2 separate regions of the Homo sapiens genome follow, and region 1 is linked to region 2. Evidence: fine-mapped expression QTL. Tissue or cell type: whole blood. Region 2 holds a variant in brackets; the other region holds the start of a gene. All regions are shown on one strand. Distances are from middle to middle.

The links. PIP is the estimated chance that this variant, and not a neighbour inherited with it, causes the effect.
Region 1: it holds the start of MDH2, and the variant in region 2 is fine-mapped to the expression of MDH2 in whole blood (TOPMed, PIP above 0.99).

Annotation. Positions count from the first base shown.
Region 1 is chr7:76,044,472-76,052,471 of GRCh38, reverse strand. MDH2 (malate dehydrogenase 2) reads right to left here and starts at 4,366. Exons shown (of 9, transcript NM_005918.4): 1 at 4,246-4,366. The coding sequence starts at 4,311. It overlaps STYXL1 (serine/threonine/tyrosine interacting like 1), which reads left to right and starts at 4,472. Exons shown (of 9, transcript NM_001317785.2): 1 at 4,472-4,810. RefSeq lists enhancers at 3,435-4,216, 4,492-4,571, 4,682-4,771, 4,217-4,999 and a silencer at 4,082-4,241.
Region 2 is chr7:76,106,458-76,114,716 of GRCh38, reverse strand. LOC124901854 (small nucleolar RNA U13) reads right to left here and starts at 1,919; the gene lies at 1,821-1,919. It also overlaps the pseudogene GTF2IP7 and the pseudogene GRPEL1P3. The variant C/A (reference allele first, on the strand shown) is at 4,751.

The sequences.
Region 1 (8,000 bases), 62 kb after region 2:
ACTGCTGCAATGAGTGTATCTTTTTTTTTTTTTTTTTTTTTGAGATAGGGTCTCCCTCTCTCACCCAGGCTGGAGTGCAGTGGTGCGATCTTGGCTCACTGCAACCTCTGCATTTTCGGTTCAAGCCATCCTCCCCACCTTAGCTGTAGCTGGGACTACAGGTACACACCACTCATTTTGTAGAAATGAGGTTTTGCCACACTGCCCAGGCTGGTCTCAAACTTCTGAGCTCAAGTGCTGGGATTATAGGTGTAAGCTACCATGCCCAGACTGTCTCTATCTTTATCTAACAAAGAATTAATCTCTACCAAGAAATGGACCGACCTGTGCCCTCGCTAGGGTGCTTAAATGGATGGGTCCCATGTGTACATAAGGTGAACACAACATGGGGGAGGGAGGGGAAGAAGACTGCCTCACTGGTTTCTTTGCTTTCACTTTGTCAAGGTGATGTCACTGTTTGTATATTACAGGATGTCACCAACTTAATTTTTACAAAACCACAATCCTTAAGTAGTATAATCTTTACATGCTTTGCAATGAGATGAAAATCTTTGGTGGCCCGGAGGTTAGATCATGATCTCCTTGTCAAAGAGCTGTCTTCCAGACCCGCTGACCTTTGCTGGGTGGCAGAGTGGCTATCAACAGCACACTGCTTGGCAACTGTGTTGAAAACCGACATATGTTAACACTGCCTTCATTTATAAGTTTTAACACTTTATAACGTGTTATGGTTTGTTTTAAAATTTCTACTTGAGTTTATATTGTAATGTATATATTAGTACATATACCTATAAGTAAATACATTGGGGCTATGTGCTTCCTACGCTTTTACTGTTAAAGATACAGGATCCAGCTAGGCGTGGTGGCTCACGCGTTTAATCCTAGCACTTTGGGAGGCTGAGATGGGCGCATCACCTGAGGTCGGGAGTTTGAGACCAGCCTGACCAACATGGAGAAACCCTGTCTCTACTAAAAATACAAAATTAGCCAGGCATGGTGGCGCATGCCTGTAATCCCAGCTACTCGGAAGGCTGAGGCAGGAGAATGGCTTGAACCTGGGAGGCGGAGGTTGCGGTGAGCTGAGATCGCACCATTGCACTCCAGCCTGGGCAACAAGAGCGGAACTCCGTCTCAAAAAAAAAAAAAAAAAAAATCCAAAGTCTGGAGACCACTGCACCATGGGCTCAAGCCCATCTTTCTTTCTGCTTTCATCAGCTGCCTTCTCAACAATGTCGCTTGTATGCCCAACAGGCATTTTAAATTGAACATATGAAAAACTGAGATCCTGGCCGGGTGTGGTGGCTCACGTCTATAATCCCAGTACCTTGGGAGGCCAAGACAGGTGGATCACCTGAGGTCAGGAGTTTGAGACCAGCCTGGCCAACATGGCGAAACCCCATCTCTACTGAAAATACAAAAAAAAATTAGTTGGGCGTGGTGGCAGCACCTGTAATCCCAGCTACTCAGGAGGCTGAGGTGAGAGAACCACTTGAACCCAGGAGGCGGAGGCTGCAGTGAGCCGAGATCACGCCACTGTACTCCAGCCTGGGCAACAGAGCGAGACTCTCAGTAAATAAATAAAAACTGAACTCCTGATATCTTCTCCCTGGTTAAACCCACTCTCTTCTATAAGTCTTGCCTATTTCAGCCCAACTCCAAGGCCCAAAACCTTGGTGTCATCCCCGACCCCTTATCTAATCACACATCAGCAAATCCTTCTGGTACCATCAATGAATACCCAGAATTCAATCATTTCTTACCACCTGCACCTAGATAACCACAATGAACTCCTAACCTACCTTTCTCTCACTCCTAAGACCATCTTGTTAAAATGGAAGGAAGAGCAAGTCATTACGCAGCTGAAAACCCTCAACTGGCCGCCCCATTTCTGAGAAAATACCAAAGTTTTACAAGGCCTGTTCTGTTACCTCCACTGCCTTCTCTGGAACTACCCTAGCCTCATTTTCTCAAACCTTCAAGGCATGCCCCATGCTTCTCCAAGGGCTCTCAGCTACATCCTGAGACATATCCCTTACCTGCAATACTCTTTCCATATGATGTGATCTCTGCTTCCTTCAGACTTTACTCAAACATCTCACTCTGCGTGAGGCCTACCCTGGCTGATGTAAAACTGCTACCCTCGGCTGGGAGTGGTGGCTCACGCCTGTAATCCCAGCACTTTGGGAGGCCAAGGAGGGTGGATCACTTAAGGCCAGGAGTTTGAGACCAGCCTGGCCAACATGGTGAAACCCCATCTCTACTAAAACTACAAAAATTACCCAGCTGTCGTAGCCCTTGCCTGTGATTCCCACCTACTCGGGAGGATGAGGCAGGAGGATAGCTTGAGCCCAAGAGTTGGTTGCAGTGAGCCAAGATGGCGCCACTGCACTCCATCCTGGGCAACAGAGTGGGACTCTGTCAGGTCCATCCTGGCCAACATGGTGAAACCCCATCTCTACTAAAAACACAAAAATTAGCTGGGCACGGTGGTGCGCGCCTGTAGTCCCAGCTATTCGGGAGGCTGAGGCAGGAGAATCGCTCCAACCTGGGAGGTGGAGGCTGCAGTGAACCGAGATCACGCCACTGCACTCCAGCCTGTCGACAGGGCGAGGCACTGCATCAAAAAAAGTAAATAAAATTGGTACCCTCTTCCCTAACACAAGCACCCTACAATCCCCATTTTTCTTGCATGTTCATCACTATTTTAAGATACTTTATAATGAGTGGGGCAATAAGTAAAATATCTAGTAATTTCCGTGAGAGCAGGGACTTCTGTGTTTTGTTCACCGCTGTATTTCCAGTACCTAGCTCAATAAATATGTCGGATATCTGAAGGTCCTACCAAAACTCAACCTCTCCCTGGACACCCCTGTCCTCTCTTTGGTTGGCTGCCCCTCCCCCACACCTCATCCCTCCTGTCCTGTTTACTCATTCCCTAAGACCTTCATCGCCTCCACCTGTCCTAAGTTTACTCATTCCCTAAGACCTTCATCGCTTCCACCTGTCCTAAGTTTACTCATTCCTGTCCCATATCAAGTGTCACTTCTCACTTATCTTGGTATCCCCTGCAGCACCCAGCATAGTTGTTGGCAAGCACAGGTACTTAATGTACTTATCTGTATACAGCTGGGCCCCCACTTCACCGCAGCGCAAAAGCATTTGGTACATTCAACTTACAATGGGGTTGCCTGTGGGAACCCATTGCAAGTTGAAAATACACAAAGTTAAACTCGCCTTTTGACTTAGGATATTACCAACTTGCGATGGGTATGGGAAGTAGCCATCAATCCAGGAGCATTTGTATTTATTTTTCAAATGAACTGGATGTACAGGAAACTCGAGAACTTCGATGATAAATTTGGATTCCCCTTTAAAATTACCTCCCTCTTGGGCGTCGTAATTAAAAGGCAATGCGAGCACCTCCTGGGTTCTCAAAATTAGGTTTAATTAGATTCACCTGGTAAAAATGCGGACCCCCCCCCCCCCCCCCGCAGTCTTAAGCTTCTTCAATGAACCCAGACGTCTGTTTTTTATTAGCTTTCTGGTGATTCTGACACACTGCAGAGTTTAAGAACCACCATTCTAGAAGATGGCTAAAAATAGCCTAGGCTCCTAGGCTTAAGTGGTCGCGGGCCAAGTCAAGCACTGTTAAGACACCTGGCGGCAGGCTCAGTCCGCCCACAGCAGGAGAGATCCTCCAAAAAGGTTAAGAGGAAGCCGTCTTCAGGTCAGAAGCGCTGAATTCTAATCCTCTGGCCAAATGACTGTAACCCTGGCCCAGTTCTCTAGCCTCGGTTTGTCCATACTATGGAATTAGGAAGTATACGATTTCTTTTATTCACGCACAACTCACACGGATGCTGCAAGGAGATTAGCTACGTCAAAGCAATGGAACGCTGCAGAAAAAAACGTAAGTTTACTTTCAGATGCAGAGCCCTGGTTTCCCAACCTTGAAGGCGTGCAAGCCAAGAGCAGGTCCTCTGGGAAATCTGGGAGACCTGGGGGAACCCTGACAAATGGACCGGCCCTGGAGCGGGACTACCTCGCCCCCTTTTCCCCGGCTTTCTCCCCCGCACCTCCAGGCCAGTGTCAGGGCCTGCCCCGGGCGCCACAGTCTCCAGCCAGTGCCGGGCATCCCTGCGGTCCAGGCTGGCCTGGAGAGGGTCAGAGCTGCCCGCGAACCGGGGACGCACGTGGCCCGGGCCGGGGGGCCTCCGCCTGCAGGCCGCCCCTCGTCTGGCCTACCTGGGCCGAGGTGCTGAAGCTGCGGCGGAGAGCAGCGCTGGCAGGCCGGGCGAGGGCGGAGAGCATGGCTGGAGCGGGAGGGGCACCGACTGGCAGGCACAGGAGCTGGTGACGGGGAAGTGACTCCAACGACCTCCACACTGCCCAGCGCCTGCTCTCTGGGGCCTCGCGAGAGTGACCGGACTTCCGGTCGCGCTCGCCTCCGGGATCTCGTGAGATCACGGCCACTTCCGGGAGTCGGAAAGGAAAGCTGTGGGACCATCCTGGCAACCCCGGTGTTTGGCTGGGTTCTAGCGTAGCCGTCTGTGTGGCCGGTGGGGGACCTGCGGTCGGAGTGGGAGGGCCAGTCTGCACCCAAGAGGTGGAAGAGGACGGGCTTTAGGCTGGAAGCGCCTTAGAGGAGCCATTTTTCCAGGTGGGGCCCCAGGCAGAGGCTCCGACAGGGAGCCTGGCCATAGTCGCGCAGCCGGGGAGGTGGAGCGCGTCCCAGACCCGAGCCCCCGACCTCAGCCAAACCCATTCCTTCTGCCCTTGGAGGCCAGAGGGGACTCTGAGCTCCGGAAAGGTAGGGTCAGGGAGGCTGAGAGTCCTTAGGCGGGGTGGGAGGAAGGGGCCATCTCCTCAGATCCGGGCCGTCGTTTCCCAAGTTGCAGAGACCCTTGGGTTCAGGTTTAGTGACACCACTGCTGATAATGGCGACCTCCAGCCCTGCAAGCTTTAGAGGACCACTATTCTGTGTTCCAGATGAGCAAATAGGTTGTAGGGACAACAACTTCCGTGGTCATACAGTTCCTGTCTTCTCTCGCCTGCCCGGCAGTGCTCTGACGGTCCCACTGTTTCTGCTTTACGAATAAAGACACTGTGGCTGAGGCCAAGTGGATTTGTAGAGTTTACGCAGACAGAAAGTCGAGTAGAATTCCTTGCTCACAATGAGTTTATTACTTAAATGTATGAATTTATTTATTTTTTTGAGACGGAGTCTCTCTAGCCCAGGCTGGAGTGCAGTGGCGCGATCTTGGCTCACTGCAACCTCTGCCTGTCAGGTTCAAGTGGTTCTCCTGCCTCATTCTCCTGAGTAGCTGGGATTAGCGCACCACTACACCTGGCTAATTTTTTGTATTTTTTTTTTAGTAGAGACGGGGTTTCACCACGTTGGTCAGGCTGGTCTCGAACTCCTGACCTCGTGATCCACCCGCCTCGGCCTCCCAAAGTGCTGAGATTACAGGCGTGAGCCACCGCGCCCGGCCTGATACATATTTTTAAAATTAAACAACACCCCCAGGCAAGGTGGCTCATGCCTGTAATCCCAGCACTCTGGGAGGCTGAGGCGGGCCGATCACTTGAGGCCAGGAGTTCATGACCAGCCTGGCTAACATGGTGAAACCCCATCTCTACTAAAAATACAAAAATTAGCCCAGCGTGGTGGTGTACACCTGTAGCCCCAACTACTCCGGAGGCTGAGGCAGGAGAATCGCTTGAACCCGGGAGGTGGAGGGAGGTTGCAGTGAGCCGAGATAACCCCACTGTACTCCAGCTTGGGCGACGGAGAAAGACTCTGTCTCAAAAAAAAAAAAAAAAAAAGCCGGGTGTGGTGGCTTATGCCTGTAATCCCAGCACTTTGGGAGGTCAAGGCGGGCAGATCACCTGAGGTCAGGAGTTTGAGACCAGACTGGCTAATGTGGCGAAACCCCATCTCTACTAAATATACAAAAATTGGCTGGGCATGGTGGCGTGTGCCTGTAGTCCCAGCTACTCAGGAGGCTGAGGCAGGAGAATCCCTTGAACCCAGGAGGTGGAGGTTGCTGTGAGCCAAGATTGTGCCATTGTACTCCATCCTGGGTGATAAGAGCTAAACTCCGGCTCAAAAGCGCGCGCGCGCGCGCGCGCACACACACACACACACACACACACACACACACACACACACACACACACACACACACACACACACAGCAGATAAGCTGAGACATGCTGGAAGAGTAGGTGTTTCTCAATGGAACATTCAACTCCAGAGGAGGGAAAGATCCCTTGCCTTGGAATCAGAATTCTCAAAGGAGGGGCACTAGGGCCTGAGCATTTAACAATGGGAAATGTTTAGACAGGAAAGGAGGAGAAAAAAGGCCAAATAAAATCCTAGCGGGAAAAAATAAGCATAGGCCAGTATTCAGGGGACAGTGAATAGATCATTTATTTTGGAGTGGGGACATTAGGGCAAGCAGTGTCCTTTGTTTATCTTATCACTGACTGCATCTTCTGGTAATTATTTACTCCTCTGTCTTGTAACTGAGAGCACCTCAGAGCCAGGTATTAAGTCTTGCCAGGTACTAAGTCTTTCTTCTGTTTTTTTTGTCCAACATGCGACTGGGCTGAAAGGGCCTCAGTGAATTTGTGGAGAGTTGAGTGGTTTTAGGTACAGCTGGAAACAGCAGGTTGGGAAAAACTAGATTGTGCCGGTCCCATGAATGTTAGCTGAGAAGTTTGTATTTCATTTCTTGGGAAGCAAGTGTTTATCAAAGGTTGTTTATTTATTTGAGATGGAGCCTCACGCTGTTGCCCAGGCTGCAGTGCAGTGGCGCGATCTCGGCTCACTGCAACCTCCACCTCCGGGTTCACGCAGTTCTCCTGCCTCAGCCTCCCAAGTAGCTGGGATTACAGGTGTGCACCACCACACCTGGCTAATTTTTGTATTTTTAGCAGAGACAGGGATTTGTCATGTTGGCCAGGCTGGTCTAGAACTCCTAACCTCAAGTGATCTGCCCGAGTCAGCCTCTCAAAGTGCTGGGATTATAGGCGTGAGCCACTGCACCTGGCCAATCAGGCTTTTGTGACACTGCCAGAACTGTGTTTGAGGAAGATTAGACTGACCTTGTATGCTAAGAATTCCCAGGAAAAAAAAAATGGAGATTGTTTAGGAATCTATTCAGGGAGATTGTTTAGGAATCTATTTTATGGATGACAAAGGTCTGAATTACGGTGGTGGCCATAGAAATGGAGTGGGTAGGGCCAGTGTGGGAGAAGTCTCATGGGAAGAATGGGTAACAGTCTGTGCTCATCTGGGTTTGAGGAGTGAAAGAAAGAGGTGTGGAAAATACATAAAGAGGGAAGTCGGGTTATACAAAGGAGAGGAGAAAAATAAAGGAGGTTATACCAAAGGAGAGGAGAAAAAATAAAGAGTTCCGTTTTAGATGGGCTTAATTGGGAGTTATGCTGAGTTGTCCATATAGACCTTTCAGTGGTATGGGCCGTGTTCATGCCTGTAATCCCAACACTTTGAGCAGCCAAGGCGGACGATCACTTGAGCTCAGGAATTCAGGACCAGCCTGGGTAACATGGCAAAACCCCATCTCTACAAAAAGTACGAAAATTCTCTGGGCGTGATGGTGTGTGCTTGTAGTCCCAGCTACCCAAGAGGCTGACATGAAACAATCGCTTGAGCTCAGGCGATCGGGGGAGGTCAAGGCTGTAGTGAGCCATGATTGTGCCACTGCATTCTGACATGGGTGACAGAGCAAGATATGTCTCATTTAAGGGGGGAAAAAAGGAACTGTGGGATTGAAACTCAGGCCAGGGCGGAAGTCACCTCTGTAGAGGGGGAGAGTTGAGACCATGAGCAATAAACTGGAATCACAGATTGTCAGGCTCCCTCCCACATCTGGAATTCAGTTTCCTCCACATCCCTCCCAAGTCCTCATCTCCACAGAAGAGGAACTCGCTACCTCCCAAGCCTTCTACTTGGGCCATCCCAAACAACTTGA
Region 2 (8,259 bases):
TTTAAACAAGATATTTCCATTGCAAATGAGATAGGCAGCCATGTCATTAACACAAAATCCTTTTATGTTGAACATACGATTGTCACCAGCTACTTTTCTGTTCTTACAAATCATAGCAAGAATTTAAATTGATGAACCAAATTAATAAAGCTTAATTTTTAAATTTTTAAATTTTGAAACCGAATATGTACAACATAACTTGAATAATAATAATAATAATTATTATTAAAATGGGCTGGAGTGCCCATTTTTTGGGTTTCTCAATTCAGTTATTTTTATTTTTTTAATTTTTATTAATCCCTTAATACTCCCTTCAGGGCAATCAATTCAGTTTCTACAACAAGACATCTTAGTAGTCATTCTGATAAGCTCTTTTTTCTCAGGAAGCAGTTAAGCACAACGTAACACCTTTTGCTTGTTTCATTGTTCTTTTTCTAGCCAGTCCTTCTGTAAAAATCTGATACTGAGCTGGGCACGGTGGCTCATGCCTGTAATCCCAGCACTTTGGGAGGCCAAGGTGGGTGGATCGCCTGAGGTCAGGAGTTCGAGACCAGCCTTGCCAGCATTGTGAAACCCTGTCTCTACTAAAAATACAAAAAATTAGCTGGGCGTGGTAGTGGGCGCCTGTCATCCCAGCTACTAGGGAGGCTGAGGCAGGAGAATCACTTGAACCTGGGAGGCGAAGGTTGCAGGTAGCCGAGATCGCGCCATTGCACCTCCAGCCTTGGCAACAGGAGCAAAAAAACTCTGTCTCAAAGAAAAAAAAAAAGTGATACTGATTATATATTATGTACTTAAAGCCTTGTACCTGCATGAGGACAAAAAATATACAGTTTAAGACATGACTATATCTTCATTTCCATGATCTTTCCCACAATAAGTAGAAAGATAAGTGTCCTTCTATATTTTAAAATGACTCCATTGTTCTAAAGTGTATATTTATGCAAGGAGTAATTTGCCCTGCTGTGTAATTACTGTAAGAACAGAAGTATGTATCCAAAACAAAGCAACCTTAACCAGCAAATAGGCTTTAATTATTGTGAGAACCTCAGCGGGGGTAGCAACCCAGGACCTAATTTTAAAACTAGAAGCAGTGAGGATGAGAAGTGAGGCAGTGGAAATAGCTCTGAGCTCTCAGAATCTGTAAGTCATAAGGAAAAAAATAGATAAAAGATGTATTTGATAATTATGCTGAAGGAATAAAAATAATTTAAAACATTTCATAGAAGCATATAGTGATGGGCGAGGGGAAACTTAAATCATCATCCCGGGGCAGCCACGGCGGCTCCATGCGTGAGGCTGGTGCCACGCGGTCTCCCGGTGTTGGCATTGTCTCCAGGCCTTCTCCTCAGTTCTGCACACAGCTACAAAACAAAAGAACAGTTGCCAGCACTTGGAAGAGGATGTGGATCCAAACCAAATGGAGGACAGATACTCCCTCTATGGACAAGATACTCATGGAAGAAGTCAAGTTAGAAGAGCAGCTGAAGGAGGCTGTGGAAGAAGATAAGCAAGCACTGGCAGATACTGAGGGCTCAGAGCAGAGCAGCCAAAAATTGGTGGAGGAGGGAAATATGTATAGCATTCAGGGCTTCTGCAAGGACTCGTTAGAGGTTGCAGATGTTTTGGAGAAGGCAACACAGTGTGTTCCAGAAGAAGAAATTAAAGACAATAACCCTCACCTGAAGAACCTCTCTCTGTGAGACTCACAATGAGTGAAGTCCAGATTCAGGAAGTGTTCAGCAAGCACTGCCAAGATGAACTCTGTCACAGCAAGTTCCACCCTTATGAGCGTGAGGGTCTTTTTTTGTCTTTGTTCACATCCGACAGGCAATGTGCCAGTGTTGTAACAAGGTGTGAGTGAGGCATATCTCACACGTGAAAACCTAGTCATCACACTCCCAGTGCTTTGGGAGGCTGAGGCAGGCGGATCACTTGAGGTCAAGAGTTACAGACCAACCTGGCCCTCATGGCGAAACTCTGTGTCTACTAAAAATACAAAAATTAGCCAGGCGTGGTGGCGTACGCCTGTAGTCCCAGCTACTCAGGAGACTGAGGCAGGGGAATTGCTTTAACCTGGGAGGCGGAGGTTTCAGTGAGCCAAGTTTGCACCGCTGCACTCCAGCCTGGGCAACAGAGTGAGACTCCGTCTCCAAAAAAAAAAATACTTTGCAGGTCAGTATAAACACTTAAAATATCATTTGAATTACCGTGTTACATTATTTATTATAGAAAAACAAGGAAACAAATATACCATATGATATTTTTGTGAGGGGGTAAAAAGCAAGAATTTGTGAAGCGGGGATGTTTCTAAATCCAGCAGAGTTTTTAATACATTCTAAAATGAAAGTCATCACATCTAGATGAGATTTGGGTAAAAAATGAAAATACAGAACAGTGATATCAGCCAGAGATTTGAGAAATAGATTTAATTTCTCAGGAGCAAGTTACATGACACCTGTGAGGACGAGGGGGAACAAGGTTGTGCTTTACTAACTGCTGATGGTGATGACAGATACACTTGTATAGAGTTTTAGTTCTGTGTTTCATACCATGCACCTTACATTCCAGCCAAATTAAAGAGCTTGACATGAAAAAATTGAGAAGAAAGTAGATTAGGATATGAGCTGGGTATGGTGGCTCATGCCTATAATCCCATCACTTTGGGAGGCCGAGGCAGCCAGATGAGTTGAGGCTAGGAGTTTGAGAGCAGCCTGGTCAACATGGGGAAACTCCATCACTACTAAAAATATAAAAATTATCTGAGTGTTGTAGTAGGTGCCTGTAATCCTAGCTACTCAGGAGGCTGAGGCAGGAGGATCACTTGAACCGGGAGGTGGAGGTTGCACTGAGCCAAGATCACACCATTGTACTCCTTAGGGACAGAGTGAGACTATCTCAAAAAAAAAAAAAAAAAAAAAAAAAATTAGCTTGGGCGTGGTGGTTCCTGCCTGTAATTCCAGCTACTTGGGAGGCCAAGGCAGGAGAATCGCTTGAACCAGGGAGGCAGAGGTTACAATGAGATCACACCACTGCAGCCTGTGTGAGAGAGCGAGACTCCGTCTCGGGGGAAAAAAAAGAAAAGAAAAGAAAAATATATATATATATATGAACAGTACCTTAGGATACGTATTTCAGCTGTAGAGAGAAGCAAAAATTGAACTATCAAAAAATTGTTTTACCTGGGCATGGTGGCTCACACCTATAATCCCAGCACTTTTAGAGGTCAAGGCAGGAGGATCAGTTAAGCCCAGGAGTTTGAGACAAGACTGGGCAACATAGTGAGACCTTGTTTCTATATATTAAAAAACAAATAAAATAAAAAGAGAAATAAAATTAAAAACTTACAAAAAATGTGTTTGTTTGGTTTGTTTGTTTTTGAGACAGAGTGTCGCTCTGCCGCCCAGGCTGGAGTGCAACGGCGCAATCTTGGCTGACTGCAACCTCCACCTCTCGGGTTCAAGCGATTGTCCTGCCTCAGCCTCCCGAGTAGCTGGATTTCAGGTGTGCAGTAGCCTGCCCAGCTAATTTTTGTATTTTTAGTAGAGACGGGGTTTTGCCATGTTGGCCAGGCTGGTCTTGAACTCCTGACCTAAGGTGATCTGCCCGCCTCGGCCTCCCAAAGTTCTGGGATTACAGGTGTGAGGCACTGCGCCTGGCCAAAAGAATTGTTTTTAATGACCAGATAAAAGGCTTAATAATATTAACTTTTTAAAAATCTGTGCAATAAAAAACATGGGAAGTCATGAATATAAATAAGAGCTTAATACAGTGAAATATCTAAACTTTACTAAAGGTAGTACCTAGGCTTTTATAGATGAGGGATCAATTTTAATTCAGCCAAATGACATGTATATGAGTAACTAGTTGACAGTGATTAGGGCTGCAGTCAAGGTGATCACAAAGTGCCATGAGTGCTTGGCCATTTTCACTGAGGGAATGAGGTGACTGCCTCTGACCCCAAGTGTCCTGCCATCCTTTTAGAGTTAAGCCAGACGGTCAGACTGCTGTGGGCTTCCACAGGATGTATTGGCGCTTGGCGTGTGATGTCAGTGGCCTGTGTAGATGAGGTCTGAGACAGCCAGTTCTGGGGGTTTGTTCTTGGCCTTATTCATGCTCTTCTACTGTGACATCCTTGTGAGAACCCTTGGGAGAAATTTCTGATTTTGGTGTCAGAATTTCACCTGAAGAATTAGTTTGCTTTCATGTTTTGAACCCTGAATTATGTGACTGTTTTCATCTTAGTGATGGTTGCTAAAAAGTTTAGTTAGAGACAGATGTATGGGCTGACTCTTGACTAATTTAGACATATTCCAGGAGAACATTTCTGTCTTGTCATCTGTGGCTCTGCTTCAGGTCTCTCTCCATGTGTGATTTTTTTTTTTTTTTTTTTTTGATGTGGAGTCTCACTCTGTTGCCCAGGCTGGAGTGCAGTGGTGCAGTCTCGGCTCACTGCAAGCTCCGCCTCCCAGGTTCACACCATTCTCCTGCCTCAGCCTCCTGAGTAGCTGGGACTACAGGCGCCAGCCACCACGCCCAGATAATTTTGTTTTTGTATTTTTAATATAGACGGAGTTTCACCATGTTAGCCAGGATGGTCTCGATCTCCTGACCTTGTGATCTGCCCGCCTTGGCCTCCCAAAGTGTTGGGATTACAGGCGTGAGCCACCACACCCAGCCTAAAGTTTTTAAAGAATTTTTAAAATATCTATCATAATCTGTCTGTCTATCTATGTATCTCTCTCTCTCT[C/A]TCTATCTATCTATCTATCTGTCTTTACTGGAGGTGGGGTCTCACTATGTTGCCCAGGCTGGTCTTGAACTCCTAGGCTCAATCGATCCTCTAGCTGCAGCCTTCCAGAGCACTGGGATTACAGTTATTTGTTATTCTTTTTATTTTCTAGTCTGTTGTGCTGAACTGCATTTATCTTTTAAATAGACTTTAAATATTCTTTGGCAGAAAGTGAGGAATACATACGTATGTTCTACATATAAAATCAGTAAAATCAAATACAAATTATCAAGCCCAATGTTGTAAGGGCCATAGGGAAATAAGCGCATACACGTGGTTAATGACAGTGTGCACTGAGTTTCTGAGGAGTGTGGCTAGCAATAGATACTTAGCACTATAAAGTTGTTTATTCTTATTAAGAGGTTAATGCCACTTTTGGAGATGTATCACAGAGAAGTAACCCAAAAGAAGATAGTCCTTACAAAATTATTTATAGCTATGATGCACAACAGTGAAAGAGGGGAATCAACCTAAATGCACAGTGGTAGAGGAGAGTCGAATAAGTCAGTTAATATAATGGAATGTTATAAAGCCACCAAAAATGTTCAGTGGGTTAGATAAATAGAAGTGTCCATAAAATACGTAAATTATCAAAACATGCATTAAATCTATTTAATAATATGTAGATGTAGCAAAAAGAATGAGATGGTCATGGTGAGACTGCTAGGTAGGAAGGGGTCCCCGGAAAAACTCCAACCGGCCTGTGCAGTGGGGTGGAGCTCCCCGGAAAAACTCCAACCGGCCTGTGCACTGGGGTGGAACTTCAGGATGTTTGCACTGTTGATAGTGGGGAGGAGCCTGGCACGTCTTCTTACTGTGTAAAACCCAGTATTCTAGCTGCTGGCGGAAAGCACTCTAGCAGGGACTCTGGCCTTGTGAGAGTCCCAATAAAACCCTGTCTTACTCACTATTCAAACCGTCTGCGAGCCTAAATTTTTGTGGCCTTGAGACGGACAAGGACCCCATCTTTAGCTGAACTAAGGAAAAATCCTGCAACAGTGGATATTGGAAATAATATTAATGGATAGATTTTACTCTCCTGAAGGATTAATATAATCTGTGAGTACTTTTAGGCTTACTGCCAGTACAAGGAGTGGCTTACTTACTACCGGTACAAGGAGTATATATACTCTCTTGAGCTTTTCTGTCTGTTTGGCTATTTCAGTGCCTCCAGAAAGGGTTGAGAAGATAATGGATCAGATTGAAAAGTACATCATGACTCATCTCTGTAAATATGCGTTCTGTCCAGAACCCCAGTGAGCCTGGAAGACTGGGTGCTATGGGAAATGTCATCAATCCAATGCTAGTGAAAGATGTGACTGGGGAATGCTGAAAAATGCGCACCCCTGGGAGGAATGAGGAAAGATGACATCCACTGACTTGTTATTTTTTTGAGAAGGAGTCTTGCTCTGTTGCCCAGGCTGGAGTGTGGTGGCACGATCTCGGCTCACTGATGATGAGAAGAAAGATCTTGCCATTCAAAAGAGGATCAGGTAGTTGCTTATTTTGTTTTGCTTTATACTTACTACCTACTAATGGAAGAATACATTGGGGGAAATAAGGCACCTGAGTTTCAAACCTTAAGAGAAAGCAACAGCTCATGTTTCTGCTTCCTTAGAGTGGAAGCTTCTCTGTGGTGTCAGAAAGACGAGGAATGTGGTGACCTCACCTATCCATCTCCCTCAAGGCAGCTTTTGGTAAGTTGTGTTTGGTGTTTGAGATTGTTTTCAATCTCTGAAATCTCCAAGGAATAGGGGGACTGTGTTCTTGGTCCATTAACATTTCCTCAAGCAGGAAGCTGTGAATATCTGTATCAAGGCAGGGGATGTCGGCTGGGCCTGGTGGCTCATACCTGTAATCCCAGCACTATGGGAGGCTGAGGTGGGTGGATCACTTGAGGCTGGGAGTTCAAGAGTAGCCTGGACAACATGGTAAAACCCCGTCTCTACTAAAAATACAAAAATTAGCCAGGCATGGTGGCGCAGGCCTGTGATCCCAGCTGTTTGGGAGGCTAAGGCACGAGAATGGCTTGAATCCAGGAGGCGGAGGTTGCAGTGAGCCGAGATTGCGCCACTGCACTCCAGCCTGGCGACAGAGACTCTGTCTCAAAAATATAAATACAAAATTATATATCTATGTGTATGTATATGTGTGTGTATAAACGTGTGTGTGTGTGTGTATATATATATATATATATGTACTGGGTGCCTACTCTATGGTTGGGGCCTATTCTAGATGCTGATACAGTTAATAAAGATCTTTGCCCTCGTGGGGCTTATAGTCTAGTGGGAGAGACAGGCATAAACAAGATAAATAAGTATAATGCATATTATGTTATATGGTGGTAAATGCTAAGGAAAATAATCAAAATTCTCCATATGTTATTAGCTCATAGCACAGGGGTTAAGAGCTTGGGTCCAGGAGGTAGACTTGGAGTTTGAATTCTAGTTCTGCAACTTATTAACCATGTGATTTTGGGCAGGCTGCATTGCGTCTCCAAGCCTCAGTTTCTTCACCTGTAAAACATAAAAAACAATAGTTTCTGCATCAAAAGTTGTCAGGATTAATTGAGTTAATACAGACAGAGAACTAAGAATAGGATGGCAGGGGTGTGAGAAGTCACGGGCTTCAGGGTTCCTAAAGGTTACTGAACTCTGAGACTAAGTTTAGGCTGGTGACCAGGGTCCCAGCACTGGGGTTCATGGAGCTTGGAGGGAGAGGACCCCTGTCGAGACACATCACAGGGGCCTCGGCATGGCAGTGTGCAGTGGAGTCTCAGCACTCTTCAGGATTTAAGCCTAGGTCTAACCTGCTGCGGAGCACAGGGAAGCCACTTCTGTTTCACCTTGAGGCAAGAACAAGGGAAGACCCTGGCCCTTGATTACACTGATAGATAAAACAGAGGAAGTGGATTTGGAAATAATCCACTCATTATATTTTGCGAACTAACAGAGCCTCCACATCAAATTGAGTGGTGATTTATTAAAGGGAAGCCAAGGCCAGGCACGGTGGCTCATGCCTGTAATCCCAGCACTTTGGGAGGATTAGGCGGGTGGATCACTTGAGGTCAGGAGTTCAAGACCAGCCTGGTCAATATGGTGAAACCCCCTATCTACTAAAAGTACAAAAAATTAAATGGGTATTGTGGCAGGCACCTGTAATCCCAGCTACTTGGGAGCCTGAGGCAGGAGAATCGCTTGAACCCAGGAGGTAGAGGTTGCAGTGAGCCAAGATAGCGCCATTGCACTCCAGCCTGGGCAACGAGTGAAACTCTGTCTCAAAGAAAATTAAAATAAATAAAGAGAAGCCACATGGAGGGGTGGAGAGGGAATACTAGCATCAGATGAGCCTGGGTGCTAATTGAAGCTTTACCTTTTTCAGTAATTGGGCAAGTTAGTCAACCCTCTGAGATTGACTTTTCTATGTAAAGTAGCTGTTCCTGTGGATGACTTAAGGGGAGTGCAAACAAA